Regions from separate parts of the Homo sapiens genome. Here region 2 is linked to region 1. The links come from fine-mapping of genetic effects on gene expression. Tissue or cell type: tibial nerve. Region 1 holds a variant in brackets; the other region holds the start of a gene. All regions are shown on one strand. Distances are from middle to middle.

Evidence for each region. PIP is the estimated chance that this variant, and not a neighbour inherited with it, causes the effect.
Region 2: it holds the start of POC1B-AS1, and the variant in region 1 is fine-mapped to the expression of POC1B-AS1 in tibial nerve (GTEx, PIP above 0.99). The same link has a PIP of 0.9 or more in esophagus muscle, lung, subcutaneous fat, thyroid and tibial artery.

The regions. Positions count from the first base shown.
Region 1 is chr12:89,545,845-89,548,755 of GRCh38, forward strand. No RefSeq gene overlaps it. Among named protein-coding and RNA genes, the nearest start is that of POC1B-GALNT4, 21 kb to the left of the region's middle. The variant G/A (reference allele first, on the strand shown) is at 1,753.
Region 2 is chr12:89,523,875-89,526,785 of GRCh38, forward strand. It overlaps POC1B-AS1 (POC1B antisense RNA 1), which reads left to right and starts at 1,696. Exons shown (of 2, transcript NR_146294.1): 1 at 1,696-1,922. POC1B-DUSP6 (POC1B-DUSP6 readthrough) reads right to left here and starts at 2,173. Exons shown (of 11, transcript NR_189589.1): 1 at 2,007-2,173; 2 at 1,246-1,330. POC1B (POC1 centriolar protein B) reads right to left here and starts at 2,173. Exons shown (of 12, transcript NM_172240.3): 1 at 2,007-2,173; 2 at 1,246-1,330. The coding sequence starts at 2,021. It overlaps POC1B-GALNT4 (POC1B-GALNT4 readthrough), which reads right to left and starts at 2,388. Exons shown (of 3, transcript NM_001199782.1): 1 at 2,007-2,388; 2 at 1,246-1,330. The coding sequence starts at 2,281. It also overlaps GALNT4. RefSeq lists an enhancer at 639-848 and silencers at 939-1,318, 1,869-2,128.

The sequences.
Region 1 (2,911 bases):
GGGTTATTACTCATCCTGAGTTCCCAGAGCCATGTATTCAACACCATGTATCAACCACTGATCTGACCACTTATAGGACAGCACCCCAACTTCACAAGATGTTGTCTCCCAGCAGGCTCCATAAATGAGCCTTCGATAGGACATTTCATCATTCCATCAATCTAGCTGCTTCCAGGTAAGAACAATGAATTCTACGATGTGAGCGTAATACCACAGCTGTTTCACTGTAAATGAGTTCCTTGATCAGTGACAATGCTGTGTGTGACACCATGGGGATGAATAAGGCAGCCTATCAACCACATATGGTAGTGCTGGCGGAAGCAACATGCACAGGAAAGGGAAGTTACTCTCCAGTATATGTAATTATTCCCATGAAGACAAATTCCTGCCCCTTCCATAATGTAGTGGTCTGATATTATCAACCTGGGTGGCTGATACTTCCAAGAAATAGTGCCAAATAAGGGTTCAGTGTTGCCTTCCGTTTTAGAAATCTGGGCACTCAGCAGTGACAGTGGCAGATCAGCTGTGATGTGAGGAAGTCCATGTTTATTTATTTCATTGCCTCTGTTCCTATTCCCATGGCCACTTTGTACATGAGACATTTACCCAAGCACAAACATGGCCAGTGTCTTAGCATGCTCAACTGCTTTAACAAAACGCCGTAAACTGGGTTGTTTATAAACAGCAGAAATTTATTTCTCACAATTTTGGAGGCTGGGAAGTTCAAGATCAAGGTTCTAGCAGACTCTGCGTCTGGTGAGAGCCTATTTCCTGGTTCACAGAGGGCCACCTTCTGTGTCTTCATATGGTGGAAAGGGCTATGCAGCTCTCTGGGATTTCTTTTATAAGGGCACTAATCCCATTCATAAGGGCACTTAACTTCCCTGGGGACTTAACCTCCCAGTGGCCTCACTTCCTAATACCATTCACATTGGTGATTAGGTTTCCACATATGAGTTTTGAAGGGACACAAATATTTAGACCATAGCAGCCAGGGAAGGAGGCTCACTACAACCAAGGGATAGGTCATCTTGGCCACCTCCTCATTTAGCTTTCTGTGAGGTAGATGTCCTCTGGGGGAACATTTATATGCTATTCAAATAGCCTCAAAGACTAGCCATTTTTAGAGGTCCATTATATAACTTCCCTTTAGGTGATCTTGGCACCAACCTTCCAGGTCCCTGATAATTTGACCAACCCATTAGCCCCTGCCTGTGTATTTCAGGAAACCTCAGCTTATCCCTTCTTTCATGTCAGTGGCCAACCAGATGTACTTCCTGAAGTTCTGTCTATGGGAAGATTTTCCTATGGCTTGCAGAGCCACCCCAGACAGATAATTCTTAAACCAGACCAGGCCACTGTCACCCTCTTTTCTCATCAAAGGGTCATAGGGAATACCCGGGGAGACCAGAGGTACGGTTTGAGGGAAAGGCGGGAAGCAGTAAGAAGTCTGACTCATCAGCTTTTGCAGAGAAGAGAAGTGCTGAGAATAGATCTGAGGGTGTGAGGGGATAAAGAATAACAGCTCACCCACGTCTGTGCAGTTCTTTACCCTAAAGTTTAAGTGAAATGATTCTTCATCAAGCTTCTTCTCACTTGATTTAAGAAAATCCTTAGAGATATAACAGCATCAATATTGCAAACCAATAAGGAAACAAAGCAATAGCTTAGCCCTTGACATATATTTCTGATAAGTAATGTATTTCATGGTCTTTCCTAAATGTACATGAGGTAGAAGTAGATATATCCAAT[G/A]TCTATACTTAATTGATTTTTGCCAGAAAGTCTATCTTGAAATGTGAGCTTCTGATAAATTCCTTCTATTTGTGCTTTTTTAGAACAAGTTCCATTTTTATGTTGTCTTTGTCAGTGACGGAGGAAATCAGATCAATTTTTTAAAGTCAGTTTTTTATATAAGCATTACTGAAACTATTGAAATCTGAATATGGTGTTTTTAAAATAAACTGTGTTAAACTAATTTGTAATATCAGAAGTCAGGAAGGGAAGCATGAGGGGGCATCTAGGGGCTGGTAATGTTGTGTTTCCTCCTGTGGGTATTGGTTACCTGAGTTAATTTTTTTTTGTGAAATTACAACAAGCTGTGCACTTATGAAAGTTGTACTTTTCTATACATGTATTCTTATTCAATAAAAAGAAAAAAATGAAAGGTGCTCCATATAATGATGACCTTTTGGCAAACATTTCCATGAAATAGAAACTAGATGAAAAAATTTTATGAAATGCTGCGTAATTAGTGGATTCTTCTGGCTAAACAGCCCATCAAAAACACTTACTAAAGACCTAGAATTATTAAAGACCTAAGAATGCAATGACTTGCATTAGATATAGCTGATAGGCCAGTGAGAAGGACAACATATCACAGATTAATCAATTCATTCACAAAACGAAAACACTGAACACTTACTATGTGTCAGACACTAGTCTATATGCTTGAGGTTCCATGAGTAAGTAAATCATTCCATGTCCTTGTGGAACTGATGCCTAGTGAGGGGAGACAGCCAGCCAATTAACAATAAACAATGAGTAAATTACATGATATGTTAGATTGATAAGGGATGCTTAAGAAAAAGAGCAGAGTGAGTAAGCATTGTGGGGAAGTTTGCAGTTTTAAATAGGCTGTTCAGATCGGCATCACTAAGAAGGTGATATTTATGCAAAGGTATAAAGGAGAAGATATTGGCCATATGGGTAGCTGGGGAAGAGAATCCAGGCAGAGGGAATAGTGAGGCAGGAGAGAACCTGACAAGTTCAAGGCAAAAAAGCCAGTGTGATTAAGACAAAGTGAGAAAAAAGAAAAGGAGTTGATGTGAGGCCCGGGAATCAATGTGGGGAAGGAGAATTCCAGGCTGCTGCAAGATTTCCATTTTCACTTTCAATGAAATGGGGCACCATT
Region 2 (2,911 bases), 22 kb before region 1:
GAAAGTGAGGACGTCCCCAGTGGCGAAAGTGGCCCCAATCAGACGGGCCCTAACCAGCCCCTCTCGCTTATTGGTCCTAATCAAGCGTACTCTATCAAGATTGCTGATGTAAGTTTCAAGTTGTGTCTTCAAATAAACTCTGTCACTCAAGTCATCCACCAAGATGATCTCTTTCAAAAGAACTGCAGGAGAAGTTTCTAAAACACTGTGAATGGTACGGAGCAAAGTCGACCAGGCTTCGTTATAGAAAGCAATGATAACAGAGGTGGTAGGAAGTGTCCTATAGTTGAACTTCTGGGACTTACACTCATACATTCTTTTATCCTCTATGTGTCGATGCAGGGAAATCCTGTCACTGAGGTAAATATTGATGGCGTATCTCTCAATGAGTTCTTCTTGCTGCTTCAGTTCATCCTCGTTGAGCTGGAGTTTGCTGGCTTTCCCCCACTCCCCAAGTGCACGGGAATCTGCAGGGGGCTTCTTATAAAGCGGTCGAGACAAATCCTCCGTATTTTTCTGGAGGTCTGAGAGCCTTCTTGACCCCAGCTCCCTGGCACGGCCGGCTCCTGCGGAGGCATGAAAAGTAGAGACCAAGAGCTCCACGAAGATATAGGCCACTGTTAAAAACGCCAGCAGCAGGCAGCTCTTGCCTGCCCAAGTCCACCTCACCGCCATCCGGATTCTCAGGGCTGAGGCGCAGACGCGGCCACCAAGCCACCACGCAGGGGAAGGGCGGCGGAACCCACAGCTCGAGCTCAGGTACTTCCCAGCAGGTTCTTCCTTTCATGCAGGCGCTAGGCTCCTTTCCAGCCACCCAGGCTTTCCAGGGGTCACCTGAGCCCTCTCGGTCCTCGGCCTCCGGCACAGCCCAACTCCTCTCTCCCTACTTCCTCCTGCTCGGCTCACAACTTTTCACAAACTCTCCAGCCAACACCCCACCCTCCCCGGGCCGAGGAGAAACCCCTCCCCTTCCCACTCACTCCTCCTGGTGGTTAGTTTGCGAAAGTCGTCCGCCAGGCCCAGACCGCTGGATAGGAGGCTCTTGGCCGGGCCGGGGGCTGGGGGCCGGGATGGCAGAGGGGGCCCTAGCTGCGCCCCGCCGCGCTGGGCCCTCGTCTCCGGGTGCTCTCAACCCTCATACAGGCCCTTAGCCGTTCTCCTAGGGACCCTGCCCGGACAGGAGGAAAGGTTTCCGGCCCATGGAGTTTAGTCTCATTACAAAAGCAAAACAAGAATAAGACTTACCAAGTTGCTTGCCGTTGGGGCTGAGGTCCAAGGAGGTGATCGCAGCTTTGTGGCCTTTGAAATAACGCTCCAGAACGGGGTCCTCCTGGAAAGGAAAGTTGTCAAGTTTTGAAAGCCGCCGCAGACCTCGAATTCTGGCGGCTGGGATCCACGCTGCCACTTCCCCGGAGTCCGGCTTGGGAATGGCCACCCAGGCGGCGGCTTGGCTGGGCGGCGGGGCCGGGCAGCAGCCCACCCACGGGCGCGGCGCCCAGTCCTGCTACAGGGAGACGCCGGCGCCAGCTCTCCCCGCAGAGCCCGCAAAACGCTCTGTTCGCGCTTCCCAGAGTCCAGCGCATCGCAGGAACCGCGGCCCCTTTGAAATGCACGTTCCCGGGCCCCGCCCGCTGGCCCAAGGCAGGCAGGTGCGAGGATGCGCCTCGGCTTTGGTACTTTTTTTTTTTTTAATACTTCCTAGGTGATTCTGACGCAGGCGCTCCACGGAAACCCTCCGAGAATTCTGGGGGCCGTGGGGCCGCCCAGCTCAGTCCGGAGCTCCGGAACTCGGGGAAGAGCGTCCGGGAGCCGGGTCTGGGTTCCGCACTCCGTCCGCCCCGATGGCAGAGAGTGAGATACGGACGCCCCGGGACGAGGGGCTCAGGACCCGGCTACGGACACCTGCCTCCATCTCCCTCCAGGTGCGGCTTCGGCCCGGACCTGGCCCCGCAGCCCGCGGGACAGGCTCCAGGGAGGGACCCCCCCCACCTCCAACCCGTCCTTACCGTGGCTGAGGCCATCGGGGGAGTGGTCGGCCCAAGGCTCCTGTGGGTGGGGGAACCCGGAGAGGGGAGGGGAGAGGATGGGGAAGGAGAGGGGACCGTGCGGCTCCCGGAACCGTCTGCCCAGAGCGGCAGCGCCTCCCGGTCACTACAACAACGGCGGCCCAGTCAAACCCCGCGCTCCAGGCATGGCCAGCCGAGCCCCGAGACACCGCCAGCCCTGTAAAGAGAGGACGGGAGGTATGCGCCGGGTCAGCTGTGGCCACACACCAAGCCATGTTAACTAACACTCGCGTTCTCCCTGGTTTGATGTCAGGAAGTGGGGTAGTAACCAGGACTGGAATAAGAGCGATGAATGGAAGGGCGTTGTGAGCCTGTGATCGATGCGATCAGAGTTCTATTACGTTTTAAAGAGACAGCACCCGTGACGTTTAAGGTGATCCCCTACCGCTTATTTTGTTGACGTAAAGCTTTGACATGAAGAGGGGCAGCTTGCTAGTTATTAATATACTAAAAGGAACTAAATCCCCTGAGGGCAGATTTGAATTTATTTAACCACTGTTTTCCACACAGTGCCCTGCAGGATATTGATATAGTTGCTGGATGTGCGTGATGAATGAATGAGTGAATGAATGAATAAATGTTGTGCATGCACTTAATAATTTTCTGCGATATGTTTCCATTCTCATCTGCTTATTTGCGTATACCTTAGAGCACTAAACTTACACAGCTGGATACTTAAAGTCTTTAGGAAGACTTGGAAACATGGTTTTTTTTGTTTGTTTTTTGTGAGACCACGTTTCTACAGCAGGCTTTGTTACACATAGTATCATTTGTGCTTCAGCCAAACAATGAAGTTGGTAGAATTACAAAATGTTTTCAATGTTTCCAAGTTATAAACTTGATTC